Linked DNA regions of Homo sapiens. The main gene of each other region encodes a partner of the protein of the gene in region 3 in a complex. Each region holds a gene or a part of one and is shown on either strand. Other genes may lie near its edges. A codon is read from its position in the direction of its gene.

The links.
Region 1: the proteins of KBTBD4 (region 3) and HDAC2 are in contact, whole or in part, in a cryo-EM structure (PDB 9GGM), measured with the Homo sapiens proteins. Residues at the interface, in NP_060565.4 of Homo sapiens: Cys290, His291, Ser309, Arg312, Arg313, Trp326, Pro329, Pro331, Arg332, Asp333, Arg334, Thr355, Gln357, Ser361, Ala363, Val373, Trp374, Thr375, Glu376; in NP_001518.3 of Homo sapiens: Gln27, Gly28, His29, Pro30, Asp100, His142, Gly150, Phe151, His179, Lys201, Gly203, Glu204, Tyr205, Phe206, Gly208, Asp231, Gly269, Asp270, Arg271, Leu272, Gly273, Cys274, Tyr304 (codon at 5,932), Arg307 (codon at 5,923), Asn350 (codon at 5,257), Met351 (codon at 5,254), Thr352 (codon at 5,251), Gln354 (codon at 5,245).
Region 2: KBTBD4 (region 3) and RBX1 share a complex: the UniProt entries of both Homo sapiens proteins name them as parts of the BCR(KBTBD4) E3 ubiquitin ligase complex.
Region 4: the proteins of KBTBD4 (region 3) and HDAC1 are in contact, whole or in part, in a cryo-EM structure (PDB 8VRT), measured with the Homo sapiens proteins. Residues at the interface, in NP_060565.4 of Homo sapiens: Cys290, His291, Gln292, Arg312, Arg313, Trp326, Pro329, Leu330, Pro331, Arg332, Asp333, Arg334, Thr355, Gln357, Ser361, Ala363, Val373, Trp374, Thr375, Glu376; in NP_004955.2 of Homo sapiens: Gln26, Gly27, Pro29, Glu98, Asp99, Gly149, Phe150, His178, Lys200, Glu203, Tyr204, Phe205, Pro206, Gly207, Asp230, Gly268, Asp269, Arg270, Leu271, Gly272, Cys273, Ser348, Asn349, Met350, Thr351, Gln353.

The regions. Positions count from the first base shown.
Region 1 is NC_000006.12:113,940,149-113,947,489, forward strand, and holds part of HDAC2 (histone deacetylase 2), read right to left. Parts: intron 6,001-7,341; coding exon 5,860-6,000; intron 5,323-5,859; coding exon 5,214-5,322; intron 4,263-5,213; coding exon 4,132-4,262; intron 3,359-4,131; coding exon 3,203-3,358; intron 1,618-3,202; coding exon 1,560-1,617; intron 941-1,559; coding exon 910-940; 3' UTR 1-909. UniProt on the Homo sapiens protein: Histone deacetylase that catalyzes the deacetylation of lysine residues on the N-terminal part of the core histones (H2A, H2B, H3 and H4).
Region 2 is NC_000022.11:40,954,055-40,961,395, reverse strand, and holds part of RBX1 (E3 ubiquitin-protein ligase RBX1), read right to left. Parts: intron 1-7,341. UniProt on the Homo sapiens protein: E3 ubiquitin ligase component of multiple cullin-RING-based E3 ubiquitin-protein ligase (CRLs) complexes which mediate the ubiquitination and subsequent proteasomal degradation of target proteins, including proteins involved in cell cycle progression, signal transduction, transcription and transcription-coupled nucleotide excision repair.
Region 3 is NC_000011.10:47,575,657-47,583,147, forward strand, and holds the start of KBTBD4 (kelch repeat and BTB domain-containing protein 4), read right to left. Parts: upstream 3,315-7,491; 5' UTR 3,296-3,314; coding exon 3,277-3,295; coding exon of another isoform or gene 3,256-3,276; exon of another isoform or gene 3,172-3,255; intron 3,116-3,171; exon of another isoform or gene 3,003-3,115; coding exon of another isoform or gene 2,885-3,002; intron 2,442-2,884; coding exon of another isoform or gene 2,373-2,441; coding exon 1,755-2,372; intron 44-1,754; coding exon 1-43. Other genes in the region: NDUFS3 (NADH dehydrogenase [ubiquinone] iron-sulfur protein 3, mitochondrial precursor), read left to right, coding at 3,436-3,502, 3,613-3,678, 4,869-4,966, 5,179-5,328, 6,432-6,557, 6,693-6,812. UniProt on the Homo sapiens protein: Substrate-specific adapter of a BCR (BTB-CUL3-RBX1) E3 ubiquitin ligase complex which targets CoREST corepressor complex components RCOR1, KDM1A/LSD1 and HDAC2 for proteasomal degradation.
Region 4 is NC_000001.11:32,288,111-32,295,350, forward strand, and holds the start of HDAC1 (histone deacetylase 1), read left to right. Parts: upstream 1-3,972; 5' UTR 3,973-4,059; coding exon 4,060-4,108; intron 4,109-7,240. UniProt on the Homo sapiens protein: Histone deacetylase that catalyzes the deacetylation of lysine residues on the N-terminal part of the core histones (H2A, H2B, H3 and H4).

The DNA.
Region 1 (7,341 bases), on a different chromosome or scaffold from region 3:
ACTCCTACAGTCTTAAAATGGGCAGACACACAATAAGTAGTTGCTGAATGATAAATCAGTTGTGTTTATTTCCTTGAGTTAGAAACCTGGATGTCACGTAAATAATAATGGAACCTGGATGCCATGTAAATGCAGTAAAAGAAACAGGTTTTGTCTGCAGGTTCCATTTTAAACCAGCAATATACTATAGGCAAGTCTGGTCAATACAAGTTCTGGTCAGTTTCTTCTTTCAATTCAGAATTTCCATTTCAATTTTGAGAATCTTTGGGTCAACTCAAAGAACTCCTACATCTCAATTGCAGAGTCTGTATTATTTCATAAATTGTAATGGGATGTTAATCTTCACTGATACTAACTGGCTAAGCTATAGAGGGCAAGGTGGTAGAATTTCTATTGCAAAGATAAGTAATAATTACTATAAATACTCTTCCCAAAGAAACAGCAAATAGTTATCTTTCAAGCTGTAATCATTATCTTTCACCTAGAGTGTATTGTAAGTCTACAGAAATGATGTCATTAGCCACTGAAACAAGACTTCATATTGTAGTAATAAACAGACAAAAGATAATCCAAGTACAATTTTTTAATAAAGATAATTACAAAAGATGGAAAAATCAGCTCAGAAAGGCCAATTACTTCTTTAATAGATCAGTTTTTTTGACATAATAACTCACATCAATTTTAAATACTATCACATAAAGCATGGTGGAGAAAAGAAATTTTGCTTCATAATTAGAAAAACTCACAATAAAACTTGCCAAGAAAAACAAAAACGAAAAAGCCATTTGAAAATAAATACAGTCCATGCCAAAGTAGTATAAAATGAAGCCAGAAGTCTTCAAAAAGAAAACATTTTCCTTTCAATATTTTCTTTTTAATGATTTTCTGAAATTGGTGAGACTGTCAAATTCAGGGGTTGCTGAGCTGTTCTGATTTGGTTCTGTTAAAAGAGGCAATGTGAAATATTAAAAATGGCACAATCTTGGTTTAAATGCACTGACCTATTATATTGATCAGGTCCTGTAGGCTCATGCTAAGAAACACATTAATTGATAATGTCTTAAGTGTTTCTGGAGTAATTAATGCCTTAATTTTTCTAGTGATTTAATAAACTATTCCAAGTTATCCTGTAAAGGCTGGCACAAAATTATGTGTGCCCAAACATTTACATGCTTTCTGACACTAAAATCCTCAACTGTTTTTACTTAAAATTGTTTCTTAAATTTACCTATCTCACAACACTAAAAAAATCATGTACACAGAAATAAGAACACCATGAAAACCATTAAGTGCATATATAAAAGATAACAGCAAAAAAGGGTCTCAGATAAACTACGTACAAGAATACAAACTGACTGATATAGTTATACTGATAAACCAATAGGTAAGATGGCATATGTTGTCTTATGTACCAATACAAACTAAAATTCAGAGCACCTCATAATGATGTTCTAAGGTTCAGTCTAGTATTTCTGAAGTGTGTACACAAACACACACCAATAAACATGTTTAGTATTTTTATAGTATGTAAAAAGTACTTGATAAGGAACATCATTTACCCTTTGGTATCTGTTTTTTCACCACTGTTGTCCTTGGATTTATCTTCTTCCTTAACGTCTAAAAATAAAGATTGGGAAAAGATTAAAACCTATTTTGAAATATAAAATGTATATATATTATTTCAAAATATACTTTATTTTTAAAATATAAAAAGTTATGCAATCTTATTATTAATGAATTCGGTCTAAATAAGCTTTGTGTTGGGTGTTTCCTAAACGATGGCAGTACAAGCTATGAATAGTCACTGGATTGGGGTGCAGAGGGAGAAAAGGTGGCCCTAACTCTAGGTTTTGACCTATAGATTTAAAAAAAGCTTTCTGTGGTAGTATTTCATTTTTCAGTAGGCTGAAGAATTTTAACAACTGCAAGGCCCTATCGAAAGAGCCTCATCACCAAATAGAGAGTTTATTTTTTAAGCACAGAAAAGATAAAGCTTTTAAAAATGAGAACACCAAAAACAGACAGACAAGAAAACATAGTGAAAATGAAAGAAAAGAAAAAAAGTTAGGAAAATCCTACAGCTAAAGTTAAGTCGTCCTTAATTCAGTCATGGCTTGAATTTTTGGATGTCAATCAGTTACAAATATAGACTGAAGCCATCATTGTAATACATTGGGAAGTTAAAATTATAAATTTCTGTATGTAGCCTATTGAGGAGTGAATCCACAAGTAAAAGAACAGAACTAAATGTGTCAGATGTTATAGATTACTAACTCTCTAGTTTAAAAAAAAAAAAAAAAGCTGGCTTATTCACATAACTTCAATTTGATAGACATAGGAAAAATTGGATCATTATCTCTAAATCAGTTTTTCACATACTACAGGATCAAAATTAACAGGTTAACTAAAACGTGTGCTCATCACCATTACTTGCATTAGGAAATGCATCAAGTGCTGAGAATACAAATATTTAAGATACTGTGTTCCCTAGCCATGAGCAGCTCAGTCTAGTAGGGAGACAAAATCCTGTGAGGTGCTATAATATGATGTGTTAAATAAAATGGCAGAGGCATGTGTAAGTGTTCTGGGAAGTCAGATGAAAGGTAACAGATTCCGGTAGCAAATTCAATTGCCTAAAGCTAACACAGCGTTTTAAAGTAAGGCAATGTATCAAAGTATTTTTTCCTCCCTAACCCAGGTCCCAAATCCCCTCCTAGCTTTCCTCAGAGTTTTTAATGTTTTCTTCAATTTCTGAACAAAATCCATTATTTGACCTTTTTCAAAATGGCAAAACTGGTCTAAGGATATGTAACTCTTCTTTGTGTTTTCTCCCATTAAATAAGCTTTAGGTAGCTAAAAATTACCTTAGAAGTTCAGTTCTGACCATGCACTACCAATAGATTCATAATTACTTTGTCCTCTTTCTTAACCAATCTATATCACAATGCAATGTTCACTATTTTAAACCTATGTTATCAAGAAAATAAGGTTTCCTGTATTACTAAAGCAAATAGGAACAATAACATTTATATAAAAGCTTTAAGAGCTAAGTACCACTTATATGTAAGAAAAAAGAGTCACCTACCTAGCATACTTCCTCCTGATACCTGTGCAACTGACTTCTCGATAGCATAAACATTATAATGCAGCCCAATTTTTAAAATTTACAATTAAAACACAATTACCAAGAAACAAATCTGACCTGTTTTTTTGTCCTCTGTTTCTTTCTTATCTTCTTCAATTCTAGCTTTCTTTGCTCCTTTCTTATGATCAGCCACATTTCTTCGACCTCCTTCTCCTTCATCCTCAGAATCTGAGAATTCTTCATCACAAGCTATCCGCTTGTCTGATGCTCGAACTGCACAGAATATTTTAATAAATTTTGACAAAAACAGTCACAGGTTTTATAATCATTACAGCATACTCATACAAATGCACTAAGCAGTTAGTTACCACATTTAAACGTAAAGGGTAACATGCCTAATGATTTTAAAATTTGAATGGAATGAATGGTTTATTTAATATTGAAAACTTTGCTTTCATGTATGAAGAAATGGCTCAAAAACACATAATAAAAATTGGGGGAATCTCTTTTTCTTTAAAAATGCTGAAACTCTAAAGGAAAAAAGTGTGTTTTTCTAATAGGGGATGGGAATAATGTCATTACTTAAAAAGTAGCATTTTATTTCAGAGCTGAGAGGTGAAGTAGACCAAAAAAAAAGTACCAATACCAAATATGTTAGACAGTCTATACCATTACACATACTGTTATGCTACAATCTAACCATCACATTAAGTGTAATGAGAAGTTGTAAAATCAAACAGATGTTTAGTTATTTAGTTCACCCTACTTTAGATAAATGAGATGTCTTATTAATTTCCAAATATACTAAAGTTGCTAATTTTTGAAAACTTTCAATCATATATGTATATCCAGCCATACAAACTGAAACTGCTGACACCCAAATCAGGTTCTGAGACATCAGGAAGCTAAATCTCTGAAAGTGGCAAAAATGACAATATTAACAGTGTGCTCGTGAACATGACTTTATAGTGAAGTTCTTAGGCCACTAAAACCTTCCATTTCAATTATCATTTTGACAAATTGGAAAAATAAAGGCATTATCTTACTAGAAATTCTCTTGTCTGGATCTTCTCCATCTTCATCTCCACTGTCTTCATGAACAGCATCTTCTGGAATAGCTTGCATCTGGACACCAGGTGCATGAGGTAACATGCGCAAATTTTCAAACAAACGCTGTCTAAATTACACATGCAAAGTTTATTAGACAAAATTAAATTTCTTTGCAGTTCTTACATGCAAGAGAAAATATTTAGCAAAAAATTTCATCTTTGGTCTAGCTAAACCTATATATTAAAAGGTCTCTCTTTGTTGCCCAGACTAGAGTGCAGTGGCAAGATCATAGCTCACTGCAGCCTCAAACTCCTGGCAATCCTCCTGCCTCAGCCTCTGCGCGTTAGGACTACAAGTGTATGCCACCATGCCCGGCTAATTTTTAAATTTTTTGCAGACAAGGTCTCACTATATGGCCCAGGCTGGTCACAAACTACTGGTCTAAAGCTATCCTCCCACCTCGGACTTCCAAAGCATTAGGATTACAAGCATAAGCCACCTTGACTGGCCAAGGAGGCATTATTTTAGCCTGCCATTTCAATGATGAGAAAACATAAGCACAAAGGCAAGTGAACTTATCAAACATCATACAGCTTGTTTGTGGTACAGAGGTGACTCAAACCCATGCTATGTACTATAATGTCTCTACTTTGCTTGTGGAGACAAAGCCTTAACAAAATGTTCCAGACAATGAAAATAACTTATAGTGCACCTTGCAATTTTAAAATACATTTCAACTAATAAAAAAAATTATTTCCATTAACTGAAGAAATTAAATGGCTGAATACGGTGGCTCATGCCTGTAAGCTCAGCACTTCTGAGAGGCAGAGGTGACAGGATCACTTGAAGCCAGGAGTTCGAGACCAGCCTGGGCAACCAAGCAATATCCCATCCTGACAAAAAAATTAAAAATTAAAAAAAAAAAAAAAGAATAATCAGTAACTTAATGTTTCAAATCCTTTAGAAAAAAACAAAATATCTAATAAAGTTAAAAAGACCCATCATACTTGGCCCTTTAAAGCATACTAAATCTTTGTCAAGATAAAATGTTTATCAAAACAATTCAATGATTTCTTACTTTATCTTTTCCATATATTCTGGAGTGTTCTGGTTTGTCATGTTTGAAGGACTAATATGCAGTTTGAAGTCTGGTCCAAAATACTCAAAGTAATCATTATATGGCAACTCTAATGAAAACAATAAAATAAAGTTACATATTACAAGCTCAGTTTTCACAAAAAACCATGCACAGAATCCAGATTTAGGTGGTGAAATATTTCCTAAGAAAATGTTTAAAAGTGAACACAAAGTGAATGTTCTCCTATTTATAAAGAATGGCACTTACTCTAATCATTCATCCATCTATTTCTATATACAGACAGTCTCTGACTTTCAATGGCTTGACTTACAGTTTTCTGGCTTTTTTGTACCAACTTCAATGTCTTGTATTCAGTACATTACATGAAATATTCAACGTTTTATTTTTATAAAACAGGCTCAGTATTAGATTATTTTGTCCAACTGAAGCCTAACCTAACTGTTCTGAGCACGTTTAAAGTAGGCTGGGCTAAGTCATGTTTGGTAGGTTAAGTGTATTATATCCATTTTCTACTTATCATACTTTCAACTTATGATGGGTTTATCAGGACCTAATTGCAACATAATTAGAGGAGCATCTGTATTGACAGTTCATACAATAAAGATATTGTAATGAGAACACTTACCATTGGGAATCTCACAATCAAGGGCAACTGCAGTCTCATATGTCCAACATCGAGCAACATTACGGATTGTGTAGCCACCTCCTCCAAGCATCAGTAATGGTAAGTTAAAAGTTTTTACAACTTCTACACATTTAGCATGACCTAAGACAAGAAGATTTGGGTAACAACAAAATCTGCATACTGCAACAGTTCGAAAAATAAATTTTAAAAAGATAATAAGTGCAAATGTTACTCAACCAAAATGGGTTTTCTAAATATTTTAAAAACAAATAAAAATGTAAAAAATGTCAAGTCTAAAACTCCTTTCCAAACACGTTATACAATAATACATATTAAAAAATTAAGATATAACTAGCTATTTTAGCAGGTGTCCCTGATGGAAAAGTCAAGTACACAACTATATTAAGATTATAATATGAATATACACCTATTTTATTAACACAGAAAGATGTTCATGTAGGGTTACATGGTGAAATTCATCATGTTACAATAAAACATTATGTATCATCTAAATTAATTTTTATTGACTTTTCTTTCCCTATGGACATGTGTAAAATAATTATGGAAAGCTAAACAACATAGTTTAACCCTGAGTTAACTTTAGGTAGTGGTACTGAGTAGTTTTCCTAACTTAAGAGTTAAAAACATCTATTAATTTTCAAAAACTTCAACTTCTACGTGTAGAAATTTAATATTAATAGTAAACCTAACATAAAAGTAAATATTTTATGTGGATAAATGTCATAATTCAATAAACATTTATAAGTTTCCAGTAAGTTCCCTTCTCGGAATATTACCAGTTAGGCACATAACTCAATCTTTAAAGAAGAAAAGAAAATCCTTCAATTACAAAAGACATTTGTGCATACTGAAGAGTATTTGGGAAAAAATTAAAAAGGGACAATGAAAAAACTAACCACCTAAAAATGACATTATTCAAAAATCGTTTTTCTATATTTCCTTCCATTTCAGAGTTAATTTTACAAAGTTTATCTGTTCTCTTCATGTAACTGTATACTGTGGGAATTTTCATTAAGCATTCTTCAATAGTTGCAACATGTGATTTACATAATTCTAGCACTCAATTTTTATTATTGCTACTAGAAAAGTTTCTTTTAACAGATAAAAACCATTTGGATATTTTTAAAGAAAAAACAAACATACTAAAAGTTAACTTACAGGCTTCCAAGTAAAGATAGCTGGCTAAACAAAGATGTTTACTTTTCCTTCATCCCAAAACTTGACAAAAATGACTCGAAAGGGATTTTTTTAAAGGCCAAAATTTGTAAAAATGAAGAATGGGAGACAATACAAGAGGAAGAACATAGCTGATGGCAGCAAGGAGATGGAAAAGAGATAACTAACTTCAGCAGATCTGAAAAAGCTGAATCAAAGCTGGCAGCAGAGAAACTCAGAATGAAGTTTAAGACTTGGAATTACAAATATCCTTACACGCTTTATGCAACTGAAACTCTATTAGCT
Region 2 (7,341 bases), on a different chromosome or scaffold from region 3:
ATAAAGAATTGGGTCAGGCACAGTCGCTCACACCTGTAATCCCAGCACTTTGGGAGGCCAAGGCAGCAGGATCACTTTAGCCCACGAATTCAAGACCAGGCTGGGCAACACAGCAACATCTCATCTCTAGAAATAAAAAAATTAGCCAGTTGTGGTAGCACATGCCTGTGGTCCCAGCTACTAAGGAGGCTGAGGCAGGAGAATGGCTTGAGCACAGGCGGTTGAGGCTGCAGTGCACCATGATCGTACCACTGCACTCCAGCCTAGGTGACAGAGCAAAACCTTGTTATCAAAAAAAAAAAAAAAAAAAAAAAGGCCAGGCACGGTGGCTCGGCCGGGCGTGGTGGCTCATGTCTGTAATCCCAGCACTTTGGGAAGTCGAGGCAGGCAGATCATCTGAGGTCAGGAGTTCGAGACCAGCCTGGCCAACATGGCGAAACTCTGTCTCTTCTAAAAATACAAACAATTAACCGGGTGTGGTGGGTGGCGCATGCCTATAATCCCAGCTACTAGAGAGGCTGAGGCAGGAGAATCGCTGGAACCTGGCAGGCAGAGGTTGCAGTGAGCTGGGATCGCGCCACTGCACTCTACCCTGGGTGAAAGAGCGAGACTCCATCTTAAAAACAAACAAAAAAGGGATCTAGGGTCTATGCAGTGTATTTAAGAACTTATTGAAACTGGAATACACTACTATAATTAAAAGAATGGCAGAGAAAAGTAAATATGATGTCCTTTAAGCTGGATCCTCTAACTTAGAGGAAGACTATGTATTATAAAATTAGCTAAATAAGAGCCACAATTATTAAAGTGAAAATCAAAACTGTTTCAAGGTACATTATCGTGTTTAAATTTGATCTGGGTCTTTCTTTTGACTGTGGCCATGGCACTACTAACCTAAAGAACCCTTCAGGCTCCCTTCACGGTAGAGTCCTTTCCTTCGTCCCTGCCATACCTGGAACATGCTCCTCCTCCTATCACTCTCAAGTCCTCCCCACCCTTCAAGACCCAGCTTAAATCCCTACTTCTTGACTGAAGCTTTTCCTGACTCTTCCACCCTGAGTCATTTTCCTCTCCTTCAGGCACTCTTAACACATCAATTATGAGTATCTCTTTACATACCTGACCTCCCTCCTTCCCCCTCAACTCAAAGCTCCCACAGAGCAGGGACCTGGTCTTTCTATGCCAAGTGCAAATTAGGCTCTTGGTACTTGAACAAGCAAACAAAAACTATTTCTATAAATAGAAGAAATACGGGACAAATACAGATTCATTCTTTTTTTTTTAGACAGTCTCGCTCTGTTGCCCAGGCTGAAGGGCAGTGGCACAATCTCCACACTGCAACCTCCACCTCCCGGGTTCCAGCTATTCTCTCACCTCAGCCTCCCAAGTAGCAGGGATTACAGGTGTGCACTACCATACCAAGCTAATTTTTTGTATTTTTAGTAGAGACGGGGTTTCACCATGTTGGCCAGGCTGGTCTTTAACTCCTGACCTCAAGTGATCTGCCTGCCTCGGCCTCCCATGGTGCTGAGATTACAGGCGTGAGCCACTGCATCCGACCAAGATTCATTCCTTTTTTTCTTTTAGACAGAGTCTAGCTTTGTCCCCCCAGGCCGGAGGGCACTGGTGCAATCTTGGCTCACTGCAACCTCTGTCTCCCAGGTTCAAGTGATTCTCCCGCCTCAGCCTCCCAAGTAGCTGGGACTACAGGCATGCGCCACCATGCCTGGCTATTTTTTGTATTTTTAGTAGAGATGGGGTTTCCCCACGTTGCCCAGGCTGGTCTTGCACTTCTGGCCTCACACGATCCACGCGTCCTGGCCTCCCAAAGTACTGGGATTATAGGCGTGAGCCACCGAGCCCGGCCAGATTCATTCTTTACTACAAAATTCCTAACAAAGAACAAAAATGTATAGGAGGGATATTACTGCAATCTAGAGTACCAAATAAGAAGGGATATAGCAGGGAAAATGATTAAATATTAGTGTAAAATGTGCTCAATACAAAAGTTTTCCAGCTTTTGTTGCAGAGAGTAAGTACAGGGGTTGAGTCCAGTTAGTTTAAACGGGCAGGAACTGTTCACTGTCAACCCAGAACAGGTTGACAGTGGCACATAACGGGTTCATGTCACACCCCTGCCAAGGCAGAAGCCTATCATGTGATTTATAAAGCTTGGGGACCTTTAAGCTTTGATAAAAACGCTGTACCACCAAAGAACTGTTAAGGAAGCAATGGCTTCATCTCAAGAGTAGACAGATTACACTTTCAAAACACTGACGGGGCCGGGCGTGGTGGCTCACGCCTGTAATCCCAGCACTTTGGGAGGCCGAGCCGGGTGGATCACTCGAGGTCAGGAGTTAAAGAGACCAGACTGGCCAACATGGTGAAACCCTGTTTCTACTAAAAATACAAAAATTAGCTGGGCATGCTGGTGCATACCTGCAGTCTCAGCTGCTCAGGAGGCTGAGGCAGGAGAATAGCTTGAACCTGGGAGGCAGAGGTTGCAGTGCACCGAGATCATGCCACTGCACTCCAGCCGAGGCAACAGAGCAAGACTCTGTCTCAAACAAACCAAACCAAACCAAACCAAACCAAACCAAACCAAACCAAACCAAACCAAAATACTGATGGATCTGTAGTTTTAGGTAGATGCTAACATCTTCTGGGCCAAGGCTGGGTCTAAGATGATGAAGATTCCCCATCATCAGGAATAAGATTACCAGAGGTAATAGAGAAAATAAAACCTCACATATTTGATTTTTCAGCAACTCCTTAATACAACCAAGGAAGGAGACAGTGTAAAATAAAATAAATACAAAGGTACAGGAGGGCATGCAGAATCAATATGGACTTAAAAGAGGAAGTCTTCAGAATCCGACTAGGGCACAGCCATAATCATTCTTATTTACTTAGAGCTATGTATATAATTACTCATTTAAGGTCAGACAAGATTTATTAAAATACAACCGTTGCTAAATCTAGATTCTTACTTTCATCTTTAACAAAAATTGTCTTTATAAAAATGATAAATCCATTTTTTTCTTTACTTGCTAAGTTCTTTTCCCATATAAATCCTTTTTTTTTTTTTAAGTTATGGCACTCAGACTTCTCCTCAGTGTCTATAATAAAAGTGTGTGGCCAGGGGCAGTGGCTCACACCTGTAAGCTCAGTGTTTTGGAAGGGCAAGGCAGGAGGATTGCTTGAGTCCAGGAGTTCAAGACAAGCCTGGACAACACAGCAAGACCCAATCTCTACAAAAAATTAAAAAATTAGCAGCTAGATGCGGTGGCTCACACCTGTAATCCCAGCACTTTGGGGGCCGAGATGGGTGATCATGAGGTCAGGAGCTCGAGACCAGCCTGGCCAACATAGTGAAACCCCATTTCTACTAAAAATACAAAAAATTAGCCAGGTGTGGTGGCGGGTACCTGTAATCCCAGCTACTCGGGAAGCTGAGGCAGGAGAATTGTTTGAACCCAGAAGGTGGAGACTGCAGTAAGCCGAGATCGTGCCACTGCACTCCAGCTGGGTGACAGTGTGAGACTCCGCCTCCAAAAAAAAAAAATTAGCTAGGTGTGGTAGTGCACGTCTGTGGTCCCAGCTACTTAGAGGCTGAGGTAGGAGGACTGCTTGATCCCAGGTCAAGGCTGCAGTGAGCTATGACTGTGCCACTGCGCTCCAGCCTGGGCACTTGAGTGAGACCCTGTCTCTAACAAAAAAATACATAAAAATAAAAAATAAACAGTGTTTCTCTTTTTGAGATAGGGTCTCACTCTCTCACCTAGGCTGGAGTGCAGTGGCAAAATCTTGACTCACTGTCACCTCTGCCTCCCGGGCTCAAGGGATCTTCCCACCTCAGCCTCCCAAGTAGCTGGGACCACAGGCATAAGCCACCATGCCTGGCTAATTTTTTGTAGAGACAGGGTTTCGCCATGTTGCCCAGGCTGGTCTTGAACTCCTAGGCTCAAGCGATCTGCCCGCCTCAGCCACCCAAAGTCTTGGGTTTACAGGTGTGACCCACCTCACCTGGCCAAGAGTGTCTTTTTTTTTGAGACAGAGTTTTGCTCTTTTTGTCCAGGATGGAGTGCAATGGCAGGATCTCGGCTCACTGCAACCTCTGCCTCCCAGGTTCAAGTGATTCTCCTGCCTCAGCCTCCCATGTAGCTGGGATTACAGGTGCGTGCTACCACGCCTGGCTAATTTTGTATTTTTAGTAGAGATGGGGTTTCACTGTGTTGGCCAGGATGGTCTGGATCTCCTGACCTCATGATCCCCCCGCCTCAGCCTCCCAAAGTGCTGGGATTACAGGCATGAGCCACCGCGCCCCGCCTAAGAGTATGTTTCTTTTTTTTGTTGTTGTTGAGATGGAGTCTCACTCTGTCACCCAGGCTGGAGTGCAATGGCGCGATCTCAGCTCACTGCAACCTCCGCCTCCTGGGTTCACGCCATTCTCCTGCCTCAGCCTCTCAAGTAGCTGGGACTACAGGCGCCCGCCATCGCACCCAGCTAATTTTTTGTATTTTTAGTGGAGACGGGGTTTCACCTTGTTAGCCAGGATGGTCTCGATCTCTGGACCTTGTGATCTGCCCGCCTTGGCCTCCCAAAGTGCTGGGATTACAGGTGTAAGCCACCACGCCTGGCCTAAGAGTGTGTTTCTTAAAGGTAAAGACTTGAGGTCGGACATGGTGGCTCACACCTATAATCCCGGCACTTTGGGAGGCCAAGGGGGGTGGTTTTTTTGAGGCCAGGAGTTTGAATGGGTCATGTCTGTAATCCCAGCGGTTTGAGAGGCCAAGGCGAATGGATCACCTGAGGTCAGGAGTTTGAGACCAGCCTGGCCAACATGGTGAAACCCTGTCTCTCATAAAAATACAAAAAATGAGCCGGGTGAGGTGGCCCACACCTGTAGTCCCAGCTACTTGGGAGGCTGACGCAGGAGAATCACTTGAACTCCAGCCTGAGCGACAGAGACTCTGTCTTTAAAAAAAAAAAAAAAAAAAAGGTAAAGACCTGCCCGATCTCACTCATTGTTTTATCCTGGTGCCTACCAGGATGCTCAGGATATATTCATTGGATAAATAAAAGATAGGACTTAGAAAATACTTTCATAAGTTTTTGTTATAGGATTTCAATATCCTACTTCATCTGACATTCAAAATATATTATGAAACAAAACAGGTATCCCACTGAAAGCCTAATATGATGTCTCAAGCATTTCACTCTAAGAGAAGACAATATAGATCGCCTTTGTCTTCTGTGGTCCTTTTAAGAAGTACATTCTCTCATATCCAGAGACACATATACACTGACTTAAATATAGAGAAAAAAAAATCAGGGTTATATAAAATCATTAAAAATCATTAACTATTTTCAAAACAGAGCCCCAAGAAAGTAAAATTTTCTCTGGGTATAACTCCTTGTGAAAATGCAAGGCCGAGAAACTGGCAAGCATGTAATCAAAGACCCCACCCAAACACATTTGAAACCCTGCATATGTTTTTCTGTGATGGGTTCACGGCATCTATATTAAACATTATGGTAGGTGCTGATCTTCCTTGGCTGTAGTGTGAAGAGATAAACAGTGTCAAAGCTCAAAGAAGCCAAGGGCAATACATGACCAGTATAAGCCATGACTGCTTTCCAACAGAAAATATTTGATTCGTGCTTTTCAAGTTGAAAACATCTGAGCAAGTTTAAGATAAGATCTAAAGCTCAACTATGGGTTAGTCTTACATTGCACAATAAAGTAGTTATTAACCACATGTGACTACTGAGCACTTGAAATGTGGCTAGTCTGAATCCAGATGTGCTGTAAGTGTAAAATACACAGAATTTCAAAGATAGTACAAAGACAGAATGTAAAATATCTCATTTTTTTTTTACATCAATTACATGTTGAAGTAAAACTATTTTGACTATATAAGGTTAAATAAAATACATTAATTTCACCTTTTTATTTTCTTTTTACTTTATGAATGTGGATACTAGAAAATTTCAGGCCAGCCACAGTGGCTCACGCCTATAATCGCAACATTTTGGAAGGCCAAAGTGGGAGGATCACTTGAAGCCAGTTCGAGACCAGCCTGGGCAACAAAGCGAGATCCCGTCTCTGAAAAAAACAAAAAAAAAAAAAAAGGAAAAAGAAAATTTAAAATTATATACGTGTTTGTACTGGCTTACATTCAGATTGGACAGTGCTGGGTTAGACAAAACCAAGGAAGAGAAGAGGTGAAGAATATTCTAGGCAAAAAAGACTAGGCTATTTAAGGGCTCTAAAATAGAGCATGGACACTTAAGAATGGAAAAGCAGGCCGGGCATGGTGGCTTATGCTTGTAATCCCAACACTTTGGGAGGCAGAGGCACGCGGATCACCCGAGGTCAGGAGTTCGAGGCCAGCCTGGCCAACACGGTAAAACTGTGTCTCTACTAAAAATACAAAAATTAGCTGGGTGTGGTGGCAGGTGCCTGTAATCCCAGCTATTGAGGAGGCTGAGGCAGGAGAATCACTTGAACTCGGGAGGCGGAGGTTGCAGTGAGCTGAGATCACGCCACTGCACTCCAACCTGGGCGACTCCATCTCAGAATAAGGAAAAAAAATGGAAAACTGGCCGGGGCCATGGCTGCTTTGGCCACCGTGGTCAGTTAAAAAAAAAAAAAAGCATCCAGGTAAACTAACAGAGTGAGCAGGAGTGACTCAAGACAAAGTTGTAAAGGCAGGTGAGTGATCTGAAAAATAAGTTCCTATAATTCCATTTCTAGAAACTTAAAGTTTCTTTCCTCCATTTCTGGCCTCAGTAACAAATCATTTTAGTTCCCGGATGAAAAAGTAACCTCAACTGTTCCTGGTGTGATCAACATTCTTGTCCCTTCTACTGTAAGGACAGGAAATCAGTTCATCAAAGACTATAATCAGATCACTATGTGCTGACCACTACATGTAATAAAATATGTGGAGATTTAAATGAAATTTCTTTAGTGCAATTAATTATTTATTTAGATGTTGGCAATGATTTCCTTTTTATTATGTTTGGGCCTAACATACAAAATCCTCACTCCTTAACGCTTCTTTCCTTTGTAAACAATGACCAGCAAAAATTAGATCAGATAGACTTTTTTTTTTTTTTGAGACTTTGAGTCTTGCTGTGTCGCCCAGGTTGTAGTGCAGTGGTGTGATCTCGGCTCACTGCCACCTCTGCCTCCCAGGTTCAAGCAATTCTCCTGCCTCAGCCTGCCAAGTAGCTGGGATTACAGACATGCACCAGTACGCCCAGCTAATTTTTGTATTTTTAGTAGAGACAGGGTTTCACCATGTTGGCCAGGTTGGTCAACTCCTGGCCTCA
Region 3 (7,491 bases):
GCTTCTATTGCCTCTGTTGGGTTCTGAGAACACGGAACTCCATCTGTGAGAGCCAGAGGAAAGGCATGGTCAATGACAATCCGAAAGAGAAATTCAGAGTAAGGGACTTTAAAGATGTGAACCACTTTATTAGACTACTGCTGGGCATGTGTATATGTGTACATGCATACATACACATATACATGAAATTAACCTAAAATTGCTTTTTTTTTTTTTTTGAGGCAGGGTCTCACCCTGTCGCTCAGGCAGAAGTGCAATGGCGCAATCACCATCACCATAGCCTCAACCTCCTGGGCTCAAGCAATCCTGTTTCAGCCTCCCAAGTAGCTGGGACTACAGGTGTGCACCACCACGCCTGGCTAATTTTCTTATTTTCTGTATAGACAAGGTCTCACTGTTGTCCAGGCTGGTCTCAAACTCCTGCCATCAAGGGATCCTCCCTCCTTGGCCTCCCAAAGTGCTGGGATTACAGGCATGAGCCACCATGCCTGGCGGGTCTTGCTTTTTTTTTTTTTTTTTTTTTTTTTTGAGATGGAGTCTTGCACTGTTGCCCAGGCTGGAGTGCAGTGGCGTGATCTCGGCTCACTGCAAGCTCCACCTCCCGGGTTCACGCCATTCTCCTGCCTCAGCCTCCCGAGTAGCTGGGTCTACAGGCGCCTGCCACCATGCCCAGGTAATTTTTTGTACTTTCACCATGTTAGCCAGGATGGCCTTGATCTGACCTCGTGATCTGCCCGCCTCGGCCTCCCAAAGTGCTGGGATTACAGGCGTGAGCCACTGCGCCTGGCCCGTACCTTGCTCTTTTTTAAAGATAGTCTCATGTGTTACATGAGCCCTCAAAAAGTTGGGTAAAGACTCATAACCGTTCCTCTCCATGGAAATCTTTAGTAAAAGGTAAAAGATTTATACAATCTGAAGAGAAACCAGAGTATGTGCCTTGCTTTTTTAAAATCAAAATGGATGACTCGATATTTTCCCATCTGCCATGGAAGCAACCTACTAAGCTACAGAGCTCACACCATTTTTTTTTTTTTTTTTGAGATGGAATCTTGCTCTGTCGCCCAGGCTGGAGTGCGGTGGCGTGATCTTGGCTCACTGCAACCTCTGCCTCCGGGTTCAAGTGATTCTCCTGCCTCAGCCTTCCCAAGTAGCTGAGACTACAGGTGCAAGCCACCATGCCCAGCTAATTTTTGTATTTTTTGTGGAGACGGGATTTCGCCATGTTGGCCAGGGTGGTCTTGAACTCCTGACCTCAGGTGATCCACCCACCTCGGCCTCCCAAAGTGTTGGGATTACAGGTGTGAGCCACCATGCCTGGCCAACCTCACACCTTAAGTATGGCTATATCTCACTTGCAAGGTTAGGATTGTTTCCTAACGTTGGCCCATCACTAAAAAAGTTTTTAGTCTTAGATATCTTGCCCCATCACCAATTTACATAGGTAATTAGACCCACTGGGACATACGAAGTACAGGATAAATTAGAGTATAATACAAATCACTCCTCACTACTCTGTGTGGTTAAATGTTGTGCTTTAATTTTCCTGACTTCTTCCTCTAACGCACTGTGTCTCTGACAGCAATTACACTGAATCTCACCTCAATCTTTCTCAGCAGGTTATCTCAGTAAGAATGCAGGAATAATAATGTAAACTAACACCAGGAAGCTTGAGGGTTCTTTTCTCCTAAACTAGAACATTCACTGAACATCATAGCCAAGTAACTGGGTATGGTGTGTCCCCTCCCTAAACTTACCCGAGATGATATCTGTGAGTAAGCGGTGGGGCAAGTGGAGAAATTCCTCTGTATTCTGCAGCTGGGCCAGGTGGGTCTTGGCACAGTGCTTGGCAGCCGTATAGAGCTCAGGATCACTGTGCCGATCTGCCAGCCACATCACCTGAAGGCAGTTTCCCACTTGCACTGTGCGGGCCAAAAACCGAGAGCATTCCTCAAAGAGAGATGTCAGCTGATACATGTCTGACACCTCATAAATTTCCTGCAACTCCTCAGCTCGAAGTTTCACAGTCCCATGGTAGATATAATCAACCAGGAGCTGGAAAACAGACTCGCTGACATCCTGCAGCACAATCACCCGGTTGTGGGCCTCCTTCAGGTTGGAAGTGAACATGGATCGGAAGAAGCAGCTCTGAGCTGAGAGGACCAGCCGATGGAGCTGAAACTCCCGGCCTTCCACCGAAATGGTGACATCAGCAAAGAGCTCCTCCTCTAGACACAGTTTCATGATGCCTTGAGCCACACGGCCTGAATGTGACCGATCTTTGAAAGTGTAGTTCACAAAGTAGTTCTCATCCATGGATGCTCCAGGCTCCTCTGGTGATTCCATGCTAGCCAACTTCTCTCTCTGCCAGCTGTCTGCAAAGCAACACCATCTTGAGTAACCTGAGGAATTCACAGCCATAGTCTGTGAATCCAACTGTCCAACTCAGGGAGGGAAAAGGAAGAAGTGAGAGCAAAGTGGGTCCAGATTGGCCTTAGTCCTGGCCCTGTCCATGATGTCCCTGACGCTATCCTTTAACCAAATCTGGGTTCGTTATCCCCAGTGGCGCCCCTCCGCTAATGATATAAATAAAAGTTCCAACTCTGGGTGTTTTCCTGAGAAAACACGGAATAATTCCTTTCCATAATGTTAACAAAAGACTTGGGATTTAGGTCAATATATGAAAGCAAAGGGCTGGGAGAGGCCTGTGATCGTAAAAGCCTTACTAACCAAATAACTGGGGCATAAAACTAGTGAAGCTCAGGGGCAGTAGAATCAGACAAAAAGGACCCCTGGCCCCGGCCTAGTGGCCAGGTCCTCTCCTTCCCAGCGCATGGAGTTAAGACGCTCCATATGAAGCCTAGCCTGGGATATCCGTGGGTCTTACATTTGCTCTCTTCTGAGCTGCTTCCCCCACACTTCCCCGCTCGCTCGAAAGACTCCCTATGGCTGCGTCCCAGAACTTGAGTCCATCCGCCCCCAGGCCGGGGCACTGGGAGGCCCATCACCCTGTGCAATGTCCCCGCTCCACCTTGAGTCGTCTTGGAAACGGTCGCCAGGGAAACCGTTCTTCCCGCTCAGGCCCGCCCGCCCTCGTCAAAAGCTTGGCTCAGAGAGCGGGGGAGGGGTGTGTAGCGTAGAACCCAAAACGCCCGCCCCCTCCCCTCCTCTCACCCGCCTGGTTCTTCAGCGTCCTCGCCTTCTCTCTAGGCTCTGCCACAAGGAGCTAGGACCACGCTCACCTCACGATTTCCCTACCTGCCTGTCTCGCTTTCTCACCTGCGTTCCCTCCTTTCATCCCGGAGCCCGGAACCTCCGCTTCCGGCTCCACGTCCGCCCGGAAGAAGATCTGCTGCACACTTCCGTTTCCGGTCCGTGCCCTTGGGGCTCCGTGTCCTGCTGTCTTTCCGTCCGCTGCCTAGTCTGCATCTGAGTAACATGGCGGCGGCGGCGGTAGCCAGGCTGTGGTGGCGCGGGATCTTGGGGGCCTCGGCGCTGACCAGGGGTGAGCACGGGCAGCCAGCTGAGACCGGGGTCAGGCGCAGCGGCGTGCCCAGTGCAGAGAGCTCCTCAGGGCTCATCCCGCGCGTCTGTGCCTTTTATCTCCCTGTGCAGGGACTGGGCGACCCTCCGTTCTGTTGCTGCCGGTGAGGCGGGAGAGCGCCGGGGCCGACACGCGCCGTGAGTATGTGCGGGCAGCGCTCTTCTCTGAACTATCGGCGGGGCCCCTTAGATGCCTGTCCTTGCCCTAGGATGCCCTTCCCTACGTCCTCCTGGCAAATCTTGGAGATCTGACTTGCAGTGGTCTTCACCCTGCATGCAGAATCGAGCCCTCCCTGTGCCCTTAGGCCTGTTATGGCCCTGATTGTTCCTTGTCCATTTCAATCATCCCCTTTTTGTCTGATTAAACTGTCAGCTCTTTGAAAGCAAGCAATATAACCTTTAGGCCTCAGAGCCCTGTAATAATAGTACCTAGCGTTAATTGAGTGCTTAATGTGTGCCTGGAACCTCGCTAAGCGTTTTAGTGAATGATCTTATTTCGTCCTCACAACAGCCTTATGGGGTAGATAGCATCTTACTCTTCTTACTATAGATCAGGAAACAGTCCAAAGAATTAAACTGCCCAGGGTCAAAGACCTAGTGAATGACAAAGTAGGCCTGCCTGCTGCCAGAGGCAGAAACACCTAACCATTATTCTGTAGCTTGTGATGTGTGATTGCTCAGTGGTTTAGGGTTGCATGAATGAGTATGTACATATTATGTTACAGTCAAGATACACGGACTGGGAGTTAGGAGACCTGGCATTTCTCCTTTCCTGGGTTTTCTCATTGACACACACACACACACACACACACACACACACACACACACACACACCTGGGCCTCAGTTTTCTCATTGACACACACACACACACACACTTTTAAGGAGAGAGAGAGTCTGTGAGGGATCTTCAAGCCCTGAAGTTCTTAGCTTGAGAACCTGGTATAAACTTGCGTGCTAAGGAGCTACAGAGAGGCAAAAGTTCAGTTCCCATCCTCAAACAGCTCTTAGTCTGACAGGAGAACTGAGACTACTGCTTTAGCAGAAATGCAGGCAATGTGAGGGAAGAACTGTGGAGTAATTTTGAGAAGAGGTGAACACCCCAGCTGCTATAGTAAGAGTCTTTCTGAGGACCGTGTAGTTAAGGTGGCACTTTCCCCAAGTTTTCATCACTGTATTCCCTAGAAGGGAAACCTTTCACATGCACCTTTCTCAAGGTGCTTCAGGGAGCCTTTCCTGGATTTGACATCCCTTACAAGCCTAAGAGACTGCATGCAGGGCTGGCTTTTGCCTTCTCCATTTCTTTTTTAAATATGCCTTTTCCTTCCAGCCACTGTCAGACCACGGAATGATGTGGCCCACAAGCAGCTCTCAGCTTTTGGAGAGTATGTGGCTGAAATCTTGCCCAAGTATGTCCAACAAGTTCAGGTAATACTTACTAATGTTATTTGGGTCTGGGTCAAGAAAGAACCATGTTCGCAGGGCATGTGGGAGTGGGCAGACTTGTTTCAAAGAAACTACAGATTCCTCCATCCCAAGCTTGGACTTTTCTCTCAGCATTAAACCAGGTGACTCCAGCTGAAGTTAGCTGTTCCCTCAGTAGCTCTTTGTTCCCTCTCCCCTCACTTTCATGTGTGCAGGTGTCCTGCTTCAATGAGTTAGAGGTCTGTATCCATCCTGATGGCGTCATCCCAGTGCTGACTTTCCTCAGGGATCACACCAATGCACAGTTCAAATCTCTGGTTGACTTGACAGCAGTGGACGTCCCAACTCGGCAAAACCGTTTTGAGGTCAGTTGGGAGATCTGAGAAGGTTTTGGGGGTAAGGATATTAATTTCAGTTTGTAACATACAATAGAACACAGCAGTTAAACTGGAACTTCAGAGTCAAGTAGATCTGAAGTTGGATCTTGGTTCTGCCACTAAATGGCTGTGGGACCTCAGATAACTCAAATATTTTGTTTAATTTTTTTTTTTTTTAGACGGAATCTTGCTCTGTCGCCAGGCTGGAGTGCAGTGGCATGATCTTGGCTCACTGCAACCTCCGTCTCCCAGGTTCAAGCGATTCCCCTGCCTCAGCCCCTTGAGTAGCTGGGACTACAGGTGCATGCCACCACGCCCGGCTAATTTTTTGTATTTTTTTAGTGAAGACTGGGTTTCACCATGTTGGCCAGGATGGTCTCAATTTCCTGACCTCGTGATCTGCCTGCCTTGGCCTCCCAAAGTGCTGGGATTACAGGCATGAGCCACCATGCCCGGCCCTTGTTTAATCTTTCTGAGCTTTCATTTTCTTACCGGGAAAATAAATATAAAGCTGTCCTTATCTTATAGAATGGTTATAAGGATCCAATGAGATAGTTCAAGTAAATTGCTTGCACACAGTGTTTTCAATACATTTAGCTATTAATATTTTACTGATTATCTACTGTTTGCCAGACTCTGGGATGGAGAGAGAAATAACATGAAGTATTTGTCCTCCAGGAGTCCCCTACACTCTAGTGAAGGAGAAAGACACCTAAACAGCTTACTGTAGTAACATATAATACAAAGGATATTAGAGGGATGCTTTAAGAAAGCAGGAGGGGCACTTGGCCCTGTCTGGGAGGCTTCTTTGAAAAGAGAGAATGTTTGTGCTGAATCTAAAATATGAGTAGGAGACCAGGTAGCCTTGTGAGATGGACCAGGGAAATATTCCTGACAAAGTGAATAGCATGAGCAAACACAGGCATGCTGACATGCTAAGCTACAGCTGTGGCCTGGGCCTTTGGAAGTAGTTGTAAGCATAGGAGAATCTTGAGGTTTTGAGGTTCAGAATAGAAGGCAGGGTCACAGGGCAGAACTCTCCCAATCAGGGACTCCCATCTCAGCCCTCCAGATCCTTCTGTTCTCCCTAGATTGTCTACAACCTGTTGTCTCTGCGCTTCAACTCACGGATCCGTGTGAAGACCTACACAGATGAGCTGACGCCCATTGAGTCTGCTGTCTCTGTGTTCAAGGCAGCCAACTGGTATGAAAGGGAGGTGAGTTACCGGATATGGTGGACCTGCCTCTGGGCCACAGTTGCAGAACTGGTTCAGACTACGGGATGCAGTGTAGCCCCTTCCCCCTGTTGTTAGTCTTGATGGATTGGCTGTTTGAGGTGGTCTCTTTCCTAGATCTGGGACATGTTTGGAGTCTTCTTTGCTAACCACCCTGATCTAAGAAGGATCCTGACAGATTATGGCTTCGAGGGACATCCTTTCCGGAAAGACTTTCCTCTATCTGGCTATGTTGAGGTAGGAGCCTTGGAACTGGGACAGCAGCCTCAGGGAGGGACTTGCAGAGAACCCAGGGGATCCCTGGGAATGGCAAGAAATACGGTCTGTGGATTGTGGTGGTTTAAGAGCATGGGCCCTGGATTCAGATCCTAGCTTCATTTTTGTAACCTGGGGCAAGTTACTTGGTTTGACTGTAACTCAGTTTTCTCATCTTAAAATGGCAATAATAATAGCACTTTAATAGATTTGTGGCTGGCATTAAATAATGTATGTGTAGGCTCACGCCTGTAATCCCAGCACTTTGGGAAGCCAAGACAGGAGGAGTGCTTGAGTCCAGGAGTTCGAGAACAGCCTAGGCAACATGGTGAAACCTCTTCTCTACAAAAAAATAGAAAAATTAACGGGGCATGGTGGTGCATTCCTGTGGTCCTGGCTGCTCAAGAGGCTGAGGTGGGAGGATCGCTTGAGCCTAGAAGGCGGAGGTTGCAGTGAGCCGAGATCACGCCACTGCTCTCCAGCCTGGGCAACAGAGTGAGACCCTGTCTCTAAATAAATAAATGATGTATGAAGCCTGCTGTATTGTAAAGGCTCAATTGATGCTGTGTGTGTGTGTGTGTGTCAGGGTCTCACTCTTGTCACCTAGGATGGAGTGCAGTGGTGCGATCATGGCTCACTGCAGTCTTGACCGCCCAGGCTC
Region 4 (7,240 bases), on a different chromosome or scaffold from region 3:
AGGCTGCAGTGAGCATGATCCTGCCATTGCACTCCAGCCAGAGCAAAAAAGAGAGCGAAACCCCATCTCAAAAAAAAGGGAAGATTTAGCTATGTTGGACTTACCTGTCCTCATGGAGCTGAATAATGGCCACCCCTCCAGGTAGGGCCTGAACTCTACCTTTGCCAGAGTCCCCTCCACTCCCTGTTGGTCTTAGACAATGAAACTGAGTGTTAGTAGCTATTTACCACCAAGCTCATGCTTGTTGTTCTTATAATAAAGATAAATGGTTTAATAAATGGTATGATAAAGAAAATTATATTATGGTATTATACCATTTAATAAATGGTATAATAAAGAAAATGGTTTTTTGCACCCACATTTCCATTAAAAAGTGAGAAAATTAAAGATACCTGAGGATGGCAGAGTGTTTGATGAAAGATAGGGAAATGTTGGCCAGGCACCGTGGCTCACACCTGTAATCCCAGCAGTTTAGGAGGCCGGGGCAGGCGGATCACAAGGTCAGGAGTTCAAGATCAGCCTGGCCAACATAGTGAAACCCCGTCTCTACTAAAAATACAAAAAATTAGCCGGGAGTGGTGGCAGGTGCCTACAATCCCAGCTACTCGGAAGGCTGAATGGCGCGATCTCAGCTCATTGCAACCTCTGCCTCCCAGGTTCAAGCCATTCTTCTGCCTTAGCCTCCCTAGTAGCTGGGATTACAGGCGCCTGCCACCATGCCTAGCTAATTTTTATATTTTTAGTAGACGTGGGGTTTCGCCATGTTGGCCAGGCTGGTCTCAAACTCCTGACCTTGGGTGATCTGCCCGCCTCGGTCTCCCAAACTGCTGGGATTACAGGAGTGAGCCACAGTGCCCGGCCTCTAATTTTTATTTTTAATTTTTTTAATTTTTATTTTTTTAATTTTTATTTTATTTATTTTTTGTAATTTTTAAAATATACAAAAAAAGGGCCGGGTGTGGTGGCTCACGCCTGTAATCCCAGCACTTTTTGGGAGGCTGAGGTGGGTGGATCACGAGGTCAGGAGATCGAGACCATCCTGGCTAACATGGTGAAACCCTGTCTCTACTAAAAATATAAAAAAATTAGCCGGGCCTGGTGGCAGGTGCCTGTAGTCCCAGCTACTCGGGAGGCTGAGACAGGAGAATGGCGTGAACTCGAGAGGTGGAGCTTGCAGTGAGCCAAGATCGCACCACTACACTCCAGCCTGGGCGACAGAGTGAGACTTCATCTCAAAAAAAAAAAAAATTATATATATATATATACATATATATATGCAAACAAAGAGCATCTGAGTCATAATAATGTAAATCTATCACCTGACTGACCTGCTGCCACACCTCATGATCTCATCTGATCCCCACACTCCTTCTCTTTGGGATACTGTGTACAGCCATAGCGTGGGTGAACTTTGTATTCCTATCCTCCCCATTTTTGTTATTTTATTTTATTTCTTATTTATTTGAGACAGAGTCTCACTCTGTCATCCAGACTGTAATGCAGTGGCCTGATCTCGGCTCACTGCAACCTCCACCTCCCGGTTTCAAGCGAATCTCCTGCCTCAGCCTCCTAAGTAGCTGGGACCTACAGGCACACACCACCACGCCCAGCTAATTTTTGCATTTTTAATAGAGACGGGGTTTCACCGTGCTGGGCAGGCTGGTCTCGAACTCCTGACCTCAGGTGATTTGCCCACCTCAGCCTTCCAAATTGTTAGGATTACAGGCATGAGTCACTGTGCCCGGCCTCCTCCCCATTTTATAACAAGGGAAATGGAGGCCCAGAATGGTTAAGTAAACCCACCCAGGGCTAGCTGAGAATTAGCAACAGAGAACTGGGAGTAGAATTTGTTCCCTGGCCCTTTGCTGTTTCTATTATAAGCCACCCAGTCTTAGATTTTCTGTTACCTTATAATTAATGACTCAAATGCAGTTTCTGAGTGAGAAACACAAGTCCCAAACACTCTTTAAAGAGGCATAAAGATGTATCTTGTTGTTTTCTTTTGTTTGAGACAAGGCCTGGCTCTATTGCCCAGGCTGGAGTGTGGTGACATGATCTTGGCTCACTGCAACATCTGTCTCCTGGGCTCAAGCCATCATCCCACCTCAGCCTCCTGAGTAGCTGGAACTACAGGAGCGCGCCCCCACACCTGGGTAATTTTTCTATTTTTTGTAGAGATGGGGTTTTGCCATGTTGCCCAGGCTGGTCTCGAACTCCTGAGCTCAAGTGATCCACCCATCTTGGCCTCCCAAAGTGCTGGGATTACAGGCGTGAGCCACTGTGCCCAGCCTCTTGTTGACTGTAGGACCACAAGTTGGCGGCTAACTTAGAGCAATGTTTGGCACACAGGAAGCACTCATTAAATATTGACATTATTGTAGTTATTTTAATAGCCCAGCATTGCACTTTTAGGTCTTTCAGCTTTCAGTGATGATCAGTTGATAATTGATGATCTGGTGGAGTGGTTCTTAATGGTAGAGTTGGGGGCAATTTTACACTCCCTTACACCCCACTAATCTTCCCCCCAACCCAATGGTAAAGCTATTGCACAGTACTTGGCAATGTCTAGAGACAATTTTGGTTGTCACAGCCTGGGGGGAAGGTGCTACTGGCATCTAGTGGGTAGAGGCTAAGGATGCTGCTTAATTTTTTTTTTTTTTGAGACAAGAGTTTCACTCTAGTTGCCCAGGCACAGAACAGCTTCACAGAAGCTGTTAATGCACAGAATAGCTTCCTACAAAAAAGCATTACCTGGCCCAAAATGTCATTAGCTACCAGGCTGAGAAACCTGCCCTCCTAGGCCGGGCGCTGTGGCTCACGCCCGTAATCTCAGCATATTGGGAGGCCGAGGTGGGCGGATCCTGAGGTCAGGAGTTCGAGACCACCTGGACCAACACGGAGAAACCCAGTCTCTACCAAAAATACAAAATTAGCCGGGCATGGTGGCACATGCTTGTAATCCCAGCTACTCGGGAGGCTGAGGCAGGAGAACCGCTTGAACACAGAGGCAGAGATTGTGGTGAGCCGAGATCACACCATTGCACTCCAGCCTGGGCAACTAGAGCGAAACTCTTGTCTCAAAAAAAAAAAAAAAAAAAAAAACAGGGAAAGAAAAGAAAGGAAACCTGCCCTCCTATCATAGGATAATCCCATTTCCTCCTGTCTAAAGAGACGCCTACTTAGTCATCCTGGGTGACTGCATCAGGGAGGTAGATTTTGGAGTCTGAAAGGCTGGGTTCTGTCACTTTGTTACAGTGCCTCTGGTGCAAAGAAAGCATTTTAAAAACCCTGTACAATTAAAAAATTGAATTTAATTACTTTGTGTAACTTTGAATAATTCACAGAAGTCTGAACTTCTTTATCCTGTCCTGTAAAATGGAGGTAAAAAGCCCTTGGCCGAGAGCTGTTTTGAGGAAAAACTGAAATAACATTGGTAAAGTGTCGCACAGTACTTGGCACACAGCAGCCCCTCGACAAACATTAGCTTTCTTTCCCTTTCTTGTCGGTTTCTTCCTCTCCAAACCCGCGTGTTGCTTTTCTTTTTAATTATTTTTCTGTAGCCCTCCTTTGCGGCCACAAACTCGCTTTCTAACCCAGGTTCAGCCCTTTTATTGGCTGAGTGACCTTGTGCAAGTCACTTTTCCCCTGTAGGCCTCGGTTTATTCTCCGTAAAATCAGAAAGTTGGCCTCCGATCTCCAAGCACGCTTTTCACGACGAAGTGGGACTGTTAAGTTTACAGAGCTGCTTTCCTCCCCCGGGACTGATGGTACGGTCCCCGGGCGGCTCCCCACCCATCTGTCGCAGACCTTGGTACAGGCCCAGGGGGCCCTCGGCGGCCTCTCCGGGCTGCCCTTGCCCCCTGCCGAGTTCCGGGCCCGTGTCTGCGCAAGCTGATTGGCTGGAGCGGTGCCCGGGCTGCGCGGCTATAGGTGAGCCCAGGAGGGGACGGGCGGGGCGGGCCGGAGGCCCGCCCCCTCCCCCCTGGGTCGGACGCTGAGCGGAGCCGCGGGCGGGAGGGCGGACGGACCGACTGACGGTAGGGACGGGAGGCGAGCAAGATGGCGCAGACGCAGGGCACCCGGAGGAAAGTCTGTTACTACTACGACGGTGAGCACCGTCCTCGCGGCGGGGGCGGGGCCAGGCCGGGCCGGACCGGGAACCTGGAGGCTGAGGCTGGAGCGCCGATGGGAGGCTGCGGGAGGCTGAGGCGCTGGGGAGAGGCTCGGAGAGGAGGCTGCGAGGGGGAAGTCGAGGCTGAGGGAGGAGGCTGCGAGGAAGGGAGATCGAGGCTGAGACCAAGAGGGGATCGCGTGGGGGAAGCGTGAGGTAATCTTGATGGGAAGATTCTGAGGAAGTCTGATGTGGAGAGTTTGAGTGGGACTCCTAGAGGGGAGGGTGCGTCGGAGCGGGGAGGCTGAATCTGATGGAGACGGCTGCAAGGATACATTTTCTTGCCGAGAACCCAAAGCTCTTCCCTGCCCCGTCCCTTCCTCATCTTTTCTGGGGGAAGAGTCCTGCACGACTGGTTGCCCGCCTCCCCTCCCCCAGCCTCTGAGCGGGGCCTGCGGTTGCTACTGCGACGTGGGGCGCCAGGGGTTGCAAGGAGAAGGATGCAACCTGTTAAAACAGACTTCTCACTTAATCTCTCAAGCAGGTTACTGTGTTCGAGGAAGTGTTGAGGGGCTGGGGCCGTGGGGTTGATCGGGTCACCCTTCCCAGTGACCGAAGTTCTCTCCGTGTCAGAGCTCAGAGTGTTAGGGGAGCACAGAGAAGAGGCACCGAACTCCACCTGAGGAGTCAGCGAAGGAGGGGACATCTTAGTTAGGACCTGAAGAACAGGAGTTCTTAGCCAGGCACAGGGAAGGCAAAGATAACAGCAAGTTTCAGAGGCAAGAGAGAGGACAGGACCTTTGAAAAACAGGCATTTGGCCGGGCGTGGTGGCTCACGCCTGTAATCCCAGCACTTTGGGAGGCCGAGGCTGGTGGATCACCTGAGGTCAGGAGTTCGAGACCAGCCTGGCCAACATGGTGAAACCCCGTCTCTACTAAAAATACAAAATTAGCCGCGCATGGTGGTGTGCGCCTGTAATCCCAGCTACTCTGGAGCCTAAGGCAGGAGAATCCCTTAGAACCCGGGAGGCAGAGGTTGCAGTGAGCTGAGATCGTGCCACTGCACTCCAGCTTGGACAACAGAGCGAGGCTCTGTCTTAAAAAAAAAAAAAAAAAAAGATGTAAATAGGGACCGGACCATGAAGGGCTGGGCATGCTGTCCCAAGGAAGTTGGACTTTATTGAGGGCACTTGTGAGTGATTCAAGTTTTATGCAGGTTATTGACATCATCAGGTTTATACCTTAGAAATTAAAGTAATGGGGGCCAGGTGCAGTGGCTCACACCTCTCTAATCCCAGTACTTTGGGAGGCTGAGGCAGGCAGATCACTCGGGGCCAGGAGTTCAGGACCAGCCTGGCCAACACGGTGAAACCCCATCTCTACTAAAAATACAAAATTTAGGCTGGGCACGGTGGCTCACGCCTGTAATCCCGGCACTTTGGGAGGCTGAGGCGGGCGGATCATGAGGTCAGGAGTTCAAGACCAGCCTGACCAACATGGTGAAACCCTGTCTCTACTAAAAATACAAAAATTACCCGGGTGTGGTGGTGCGCACCTGTAATCCCAGCTACTCAGGAGGCTGAGGCAGGAGAGTCGCTTGAACCCAGGAGGCAGAGGTTGCAGTGAGCCAAGATTGCACCGCTGCACTCCAGCCTGGGCAACAGGGTGAGACTCCATCTCAAAAAAAAAAAAAAAAATTAGCGAGGTGTGGTGGCACATGCCTGTAGTCCCAGCTACTCAGGAGGCTGAGGTGCGAGAGTTGTTTGAACCTGGGAGGCAGAGGTTGCAGTGGGCTGAGATCTCACCACTGCACTCCGTCCTGGGCAACAGAGCGAGACTTCGTCTCAAAAAAAAAAAAAACAAAAAAATTCAGATTGTAGGGGTAAGGAAGAAGGCATGGATCCCAAGTTCCTGGTGTGGGCAGTATTTTTTATTTTTTGAGATGATGTCTAGCTCTGTCACCCAGGCTGGAGTGCAGTGGCTTGATCTCGGCTCACTGCAACTGCAACCTCCACCTCCCAGATTCAAGGGATTCTCCTGCCTCAGCCTCCTGAGTAGCTGGGATTACAGGCGTGCGCCACCATGCCTGGCTAGTTTTTGTATTTTTATTAGAGATGGGGTTTCACGATGTTGGCCAGGCTGGTCTCAAACTGACCTCCAGTGCTCCATCTGCCTCAGCCTCCCAAAGTGCTGGGATTATAGGCATGAGCCACACTTCCTGGCCTCTGATGTGGGCAATTTGATGGTGAGTGTTTGGAGGTTTGGAGAATGCCATGTCAGTTGATAACTTTTTTTTTTTTTTTTTTTTGAGATGGAGTCTCGCTCTGTCGCCCAGGCTGGAGTGCAGTGGCGCAATCTCGGCTCACTGCTGCAAGCTCCACCTCCCGGGTCCATGCCATTCTCCTGCCTCAGCCTCTCCAGTAGCTGGGACTACAGGCGCCCGCCACCACACTGGGCTGATTTTTTGTATTTTTAGTAGAGACAGGGTTTCACCGTGTTAGCCAGGATGGTCTGGATCTCCTGACCTCATGATCCGCCCGCCTCGGCCTCCCAAAGTGCTGGGATTACAGGTGTGAGCCACCGCACCCGGCCCCAACTTTTTTTTTTTTTTTTTAAACTTCTAGAGATGGGGTCTCAATATGTTGCCTGGGCTTGTCTTGAACTCCTGTGCCTGGCCTCAAGCAATCCTGCCACCTTGGCCTCCCAAAGTGCTGGGATTACAGGCCTAAGCCACTGTTTTTTTTGTTGTTGTTGTTTGTTTGTTTAGAAATAACTATTGATAACTGTTAAGATGTTTAGGGGACATCCAAGTAGAGGCATCCAGTAGGCAGTTTAGAAGATAGAAATTTTTTGGTAGTCATCAGTATCTTAGTCTGCTATAACAGAACACTGTTTATAAAGAACAGAAATTGCTGAATGTGGTGGCTCACGCCTATAATCCCAGTACTTTGGTAGGCTGGGGCGGATGGTTCTCTTGAGCCCAGGAGTTTGAGACCAGCCTGGGCAACTTAGGGAGACTCTGTCTCTACAAAAAGTAAAAAAATTAGCTGGGCATGATGGCATGTGCCTGTAGAGAGGCTGAAGTGGGAGGATCACTTGATCCTGGGAGGTCGACTCTGCAGTGAGCCA